Linked DNA regions of Homo sapiens. The protein of the gene in region 2 purifies or fractionates together with the protein of the main gene of each other region. This does not show direct contact. Each region holds a gene or a part of one and is shown on either strand. Other genes may lie near its edges.

What was found.
Region 1: the proteins of PANK1 (region 2) and NENF fractionate together in Homo sapiens (co-fractionation; one large-scale study listed by BioGRID). This does not show direct contact.

The regions. Positions count from the first base shown.
Region 1 is NC_000001.11:212,439,333-212,442,987, forward strand, and holds part of NENF (neudesin precursor), read left to right. Parts: intron 1-3,232; coding exon 3,233-3,293; intron 3,294-3,655. UniProt on the Homo sapiens protein: Acts as a neurotrophic factor in postnatal mature neurons enhancing neuronal survival. Promotes cell proliferation and neurogenesis in undifferentiated neural progenitor cells at the embryonic stage and inhibits differentiation of astrocytes.
Region 2 is NC_000010.11:89,635,141-89,638,795, forward strand, and holds part of PANK1 (pantothenate kinase 1), read right to left. Parts: intron 1-3,655.

The DNA of each region.
Region 1 (3,655 bases), on a different chromosome or scaffold from region 2:
GACCAGCCTGACCAACATGGAGAAACCCCATCTCTACTAAAAATACAAAAAAAAAAAAAATTAGCCAAGCATGGTGGCACACGTCTGTAATCCCAGCTACTCGGGACACTGAGGCAGGAGAAATGCTTGAACCCGGGAGGCGGAGGTTGCGATGAGCCAAGATCATGACATTGCACTCCAGCCTGGGCAACAAGAGTGAAACTCCTTCTCATAAAAAAAAAAGATTGTTTGCCGGGCGTGTTGCCTCATGCCTATAATCCCAACACATTGAGAGGTCAAGGCAGGCAGATTACCTGAGGTCAGGAGTTCTAGACCAGCCTGGCCAACATGGTGAAACCTGTCTCTACTAAATATACAAAAAAAAAAAAAAAAAAAAAATTGGCCAGGCGTGGTGACACACGTCTGTAATCCCAGCTACCCTGGAGGCTGAGGCAGGAGAATAGCTTGAACCTGGGAGGCAGAGGTTGCAGTGAGCCGAGATTGTGCCACTGCACTCCAGCCTGGGCAACCGAGCTAGACTCCGTCCCCCCCCCACAAAAAAAGAAAAGAGTGTTAGTGATAAGATGCATGTTTTTGTTTATCTTATGTATGTGAATGTTATATTTATATGGCTGTTTGCCCATAGAAAATAAGTGTCGGCTGGGCATGGTGGCTTATGCCTGTAATCCCAGCCCTTTGGGAGGCCGAGGCGGGCAGATCACTTGAGGTTAGGAGTTTGAGACCAGCCTGGCCAACATGGTGAAACCCTGTCTCTGCTAAAAATACAAAAATTATCTGGGTATGGTGGCGTGTGCCTGTAATCCCAGCTACTCAGGAGACTGAGGCAGGAGAATCGCTTGAACTGGGGAGGTGGAGGTTGCAGTGAGCCGATATTGTACCACTGCACTCCAGTCTGGGTGACAGAGTAAGACTCTGTCTCAAAAAAAAAAAAAAAGGAAAAAGAAAAGAAGTATCAAGGAGAAAGCCACAGAATGGAAGATATGACAAAATACTGGGGTTAAATGATAGCTGTAATATATTTTTAAAATTGATATAAATACATAATCCCACTTGATAAATAATCAAAGCTGAGGAATAAGGAAACCTGGTAAAGGAAAGGCGGTAAATCATCACAAAGAAAAATGCCGTCTGCTGGCTTGGAAATCCAGGCCGTTTCAAATGACCCGTGTTAGATGAGGTGGAGCAAGTGTCCACAGAGTCAATGGCAGTCCTCTAGGGCCTGTCTTTAGGAGCCGGTTTGGAGTAATAAAAGGCAGCCCTCTGCTGAGCTCCTGTGTCGTGCCTGCTAGGTATTACGTACACTCTTTTCCTCAGCATTCCCGAGGCAAGTGGGCGTTACCCTCATATGACAGGCAGAGAAGCAGGCCTGAGTGGTTATGAGGCAGTGAGGTGTGTTTCCTTGGGCAAGTTGCTTAGCTTCTCTGAGCCTCAGTAGCTCCTCTGTCTGTTAAATGGGATCATGAAAACCCTTCACCATAAGCTGCACAAGCGCAAGAACACTAAGGCCCACCCCAAAGAGAAGGCCAAGCAGCAGGTGCTTGCAGAGCCTGAGATTCCTATGGACCCAGCAGCGACTCCCACCCTCGCCTGGGCTGTGAGCCACCTGGCTGATGCCCCTGCACCTCTGATGGCACTGAGACAAAGGAGAGATCTTGTCTTGGGTGTCTTGGGACTGTACCCATCGTCCCAGCCTGAGCCCAACTTGATGGAAGCTAGAAAAGTCATGCCATCCTTTTTTGTGTAATTCTTTCTTGGTGGGGAAATTCTGAGGTAACATTTTATGCCTGCTAATAGAGCCAAAAAAAAGTGTAAAGCCCATTGTTAGTAGAACGGTGGGGAAACAGCATTGCTTACATATCTCTAGCACTATAAATGTTGTTACAGGACAAACTAATAAAATATAAACAGTGATTAAGTTTTCATATACTTAGGCCCAGGAATTCCATATATTGAAATAGGGCACTTTCCTATGCATTCACTGGGTGGAGAGAAATTTTTAAATAAAGGCCTCAATGAAATAAGTCACCAAATTAGAAAGTAATTGATAGAAACATGTATTCATAATGCTGCCATTTATAGTTCTAAGGATTGGAAACCACCCAAATACCCAAAATAGAAAGCTAGCTAAACAAATAGGTAGACAATATCACTAATATAAGATGGGGCCCTACGCCGGGCATGGTGGCTCACGTCGGTAATCCCAGCACTTTGGGAGGCCTAGGTGGGTGGATCACCTGAGGTCAGGAGTTCGAGACCAGCCTGGCCAACATGATGAAACCCCATCTCTACTAAAAAGACAAAAAATTAGCGGGGCGTGGTGGCGGGTGCCTGTAATCCCAGCTACTCAGGAGGCTGAGTCAGGAGAATCACATGAACCCGGAAGGTGGAGGTTGCAGTGAGCTGACATTGCGCCATTGCACTCCAGCCTGGGCAGCATGAGTGAAACTCTGTCTCAAAAAAAAAGATGGGGCCCCATGGAGCTGTTTAAATGACAGTCATTTTGGTGGAAATGTTTATATGAGGGAATGTTACCTGTAAGAAGCAAAATATAAAATAGATTGCTCATATCAGTCACATCCGTGTATGTCTATTGATGAAGAGGAAAGGAAATTTGGACTGATAAGTAATTCATCATTTACTATTCTTTTGAATTTTCATCTCCATGAAGTTGCTTCTGTTCCTGATTTTCTTTTTTTTGAGACGGAGTCTCACTGTGTCACCCAGGCTGGGGTGCAGTGGCATGATCTTGGTTCACTACGACCTCTGCCTCCAGGGTTCAAGCAATTCTCCAGCCTCAGACTCGCGAGCAGCTGGGATTACAGGCATGTGCCACCATGCCCGGCTAATTTTTGTATTTTTAGTAGAGATAGGGTTTCACCATATTGGCCAGGCTGGTCTTGAACCCCTGACCTCAGGTGATCCGCCCGCCTTGGCCTCCCACAGTGCTGGGATTACAGGCGTGAGTCACTGTGCCTGGCCCCTGATTTTCTCTATAAAGGAGAGAATTGCCACATTCTTGTCATGAGACTTTATGACTTTTCCAAATTTCTGTGTGCGGGCATGACGCTGCCCAGGCAGGTGGCAAGCTCGCCAAGGACCAGGCTTAACAGAAAGCCTTTGGGACTTGACCCACTGCTCTTTGCTCAGCTTGTGATGGGAGAAGATTTTACTAAGTTGCACTGGAAGAGCTGGCTCTTCCCTTCCTCTTCACAGCTTCTCCCCTGCTTTCTAGGAAGATCAGCCCATCTACTTGGCAGTGAAGGGAGTGGTGTTTGATGTCACCTCCGGAAAGGGTAAGTGGTGTGGCATTTTGAATCTTCATTTCCAGGGAGCACAGAAGCCAGAGTGAGCAGCACTTGGAGGTGTGAGGAAAGGGAGGGAACATTAGGCAAGTCCTTTTCATTCCATTTTATTTTATTTTATTTTTTGAGACGGAGTTTCACTCTGTCACCCAGGCTGGAGTGCGGTGGCACGATCTTGGCTCACTGCAACCTCTGCCTTCTGGGTTCAAGCAATTCTCTGCCTCAGCCTCCCGAGTAGCTGGGATTACAGGCACCACCACCACCGCTGGCTAATTTTTTTGTATTTTTAGTAGAGACGGGGTTTCACCATCTTGGCAAGGCTGGTCTTGAACTTCTGACCTTGTGATCCACCC
Region 2 (3,655 bases):
TATAGAGAGAGAGAGAGATAAAATGTCCTCTATTAATATAAATAAGACTGGTATTAATAGTGTCTTAGTCCATTTTGTGCTGCTATAACAGAACACTTCAGACTGGGTAATTTGTAATGAACAGAAATTTATCGGGCTCACAATTCTAGAGGCTAGTAAGGCCAAGATTGGGGGGCTGCATATGGCAAGGACCTTCCTGCTGCATCATCCCATGATAGAAGCATAAAAGGGCAAAAGAGCATGTGTGCACAAGAGAGCAAAAGAGTGAACTCACAGCCTCAAACCCTTTTATAATGGCATTAATCATTCATGGGGATGGTGCCCTCATGACCTAAATGCCTCCCATTAGGCCTCATCTCCCAACACTGTTACACTGGGGATTTTCAACACGTGCTTTCTGGGGGACACATTTAAACCACAGCATTCCACCCTGGCTCCCCAAATTCATGTTCTTCTCACATAAAAGACACATTCATGTCATGCAATAGCCCCAAAAGTCATAACTTTCCAGCATCAGCTCAGAAGTTCAATGTACACAGTCTCATCTGAATCAGATATGGATGAGATTCAAGGCAGGATTCATCTTGAGGGACACTTCCCTCTAGCTGTAAGCCTGTGAAATCAAACAAGTTACTTACTTCCAAAATACAATGGTGGAATAGGCAAAGGATAGACATTCCCATTCCAAAAGACACAAATAGGCAAGAAGAAAGGGATAGTCTTAAGTCAATCCAAAACCCAACAGGGCAAACAACACTAAATCTTAAGGCTCCAGAGTAATCTTCCTTGACTCCACATCCTACCATCTGGGAACACTGGAGCAGCAGTTGGGCCCCCAAGGCCTCAGGTAGGCAGGCCTACCCCTACAGCTTTGTTTGGTGCTACCCATGCAGCAGCTCTCACAGGTTGGTGTCAGGTGCCTGTGGCTCTCCTGGCTAGTATTTCATGCTGGTAGGTCTAGAGTTCTGGGGTGTTGGTGTGAGCCCACTCCTTAGGCTTTACTAGGCATTGCTCTAGGAGACTCTCTGCGGTAGCTCCTACCCTAAAGTTATGCCACACACTGCCCTAGTAAGGGCCCTCTGGGTTGCTCCACCCTTGCAACACGTGTCTGCCTGGGCCATCAGGCTGTCTATGACATTCTTTGGAATCTAGCTGGAGAAAGCCATGCATCCACAGTTATTATTATTATTATTATTATTATTTTTAATTTTTATTTTTTTTGAGATGGAGTTGGAGTGCAGGTTGGCTTGCAGTGGCGCGATCTCAGCTCACTGCAGGCTCGGCCCCCCGGGGTGCACGCCATTCTCCTGCCTCATATTATTATTTTTTGAGATGGAGTCTTACTCTGTCACCCAGGCTGGAGTGCAGTGGTGCGATCTTGGCTCACTGCAACCTCCACCTCGTGGGTTCAAGCGATTCTGCTGCCTCAGCCTCCCGAGTAGCTGGGACTACAGGCGCATGCCACCATGCCTGGCTAATTTTTTGTATTTTTAGTAGAGACGGTGTTTCACAGTGTTAGCCAGGATGGTCTCGATCTCCTGACCTCGTGATCCGCCTGCCTTGGCCTCCCAAAGTGCTGGGATTACAGGCATGAGCCACCGCACCCAGCCTGCCTCCACAAGTCGTGTACTCTGCATGTCTGTAGACTTAACACCACATGGATGCCACCAAGATTTGCTGCTTGCACATTCCAAAGCTGTGGCCTGAGCCACACCAGAGCACCCCTCTTTTTTTTTTTTGAGACAGAGTCTCTCCCTGTCGCCCAGGCTACAGTGCAGTGGCGCGATCTCGACTCACTGCAAGCTCCGCCTCCCGGGTTCATGCCATTCTCCTGCCTCAGCCTCCCGAGTACCTGGGACTACAGGCGCCCGCCACCACGCCTGGCTATTTTGTATTTTTAGTAGAGACGGGGTTCCACCGTGTTAGCCAGGATGGTCTCGATCTCCTGACCTTCTGATCCACCAGCCTCGGCCTCCCAAAGTGCTGGGATTACAGGCGTCAGCCACCGCACCCGGCCCACCTGAGCACCGTTGAGCCACAGGTGGGGTGAGCAAGAAGCACTGTAATGAAATGTGGCAAGCAGAGACTTCAGGCAGCCCTGAGAAGTGAACTCCAAGATCCAGAGGGCACACTAGTTCTCTCTTTTGATATACAGTCATACGTCACTTAATGACGGGTATTTTCAGAGAAAAGAAGTGTCATTAGGCAATTCTGTCATTGTGCAAACAGCATAGAGTGTACTTACACAACCCTAGACGCTATAGCCTACTACAGACCTAGGCTATATGGTAAACCCTATTGTTCCTAAGCTGTAAACCTGTACAGCATGTTACTGTGCTTAGTACTATAGGCAATTGTAACAATGGTTAGTATTTGTGTATCTAAACATACCTAAACATAGAAAAGGTACAGTAAAAGTACAGTCTAAAAGACAAAACGTGGCATACCTGTATAGGGCACATACAAGAGCTTCCAGGACTGACAGTTGCTCTGGGTGAGTGAGTGGTGAGTAAATGTGAAGGCCTAGGACATCACTGTACACACTGTAGACTTTACAAACATTGTTCACTTAGGCTACTCTAAATTTATAAAAAGAAATTTATTTCTTCAGTAATCAATTATACTTAGCTTACTATAACAGTTTTACTTTATAAACTTTCTAATTTTAAAAATTTTTTGACTCTTGTAATAACACTTGGCTTAAAACACAAACATATTGTATAGGTGTACAAAAATATTTTCTTTATATTCTCATTCTACAAGCTTTTTTCTATTTTTAAAATTTTTTAGTTTTTTTTTTTACTTTTTAAACTTATTTGTTAAAAACAAAGATGCAAACACACACATTAACCTAGGTCTACACAAAGTCAGGGTCATCAATATCACGGTCTTCCACACCCACATCTTGTCCCACTAGAAGGTATTATGTATTATACATAATTGTGTGTGCTATATTTTTATATGACTAGCAGCCAGTAGGTTTATACCATCATCATCAAAAACAGATGAGCAACACATTGAGTTATGATGTTCAATGGTTATGATACCACTGGGCAATAAGAATTTTTCAGTTCCATTATAATCTTATAGGACTACCTTTGTATATGTGCTCCTTCCTTGGTGAAAAGGTCTATATGTGGGGCATGACTGTATTTCCTTCTCCGAGGTCATGGCACCCTGTGCCTGTGATGGGAGGGACAGCACCAGTAATTTCCAAAATGCCTTCAGAGTCATTCTTCCATTGTCCTAATGAACAGCCTCTGGCTTCCTTCTATCCCTACTGATCTCCTTATCAACTGGTTGCTTGCCCACACCCTTGGTCTTCTCTCCTGAAAATGTTCTTTCATTCTCTACCACATGGCCAGGATGAGAATCCTTCAAATCCCTAAATTCTGTTTCCTTTTTAATTATAAATTTTATCTTTAAGTCATTTCTCTCTTATTTTCCTGTATGCAGTTAATATTTTGCTTAGAAATTTCTTCCATCAAATATCGTAGTTTATTGCTCTTACATTCTGCCTTCCATAAAGCCTAGGGTGTAGACACAATTCAACCAAATTCCTTGCCACTTCATAACAAGGCTGGTCCTTACTCCACTTTCCAATACCTTATTCCTCTTTTCCATCTGAGATCTCATCAGAATTGCCTTTATTGCT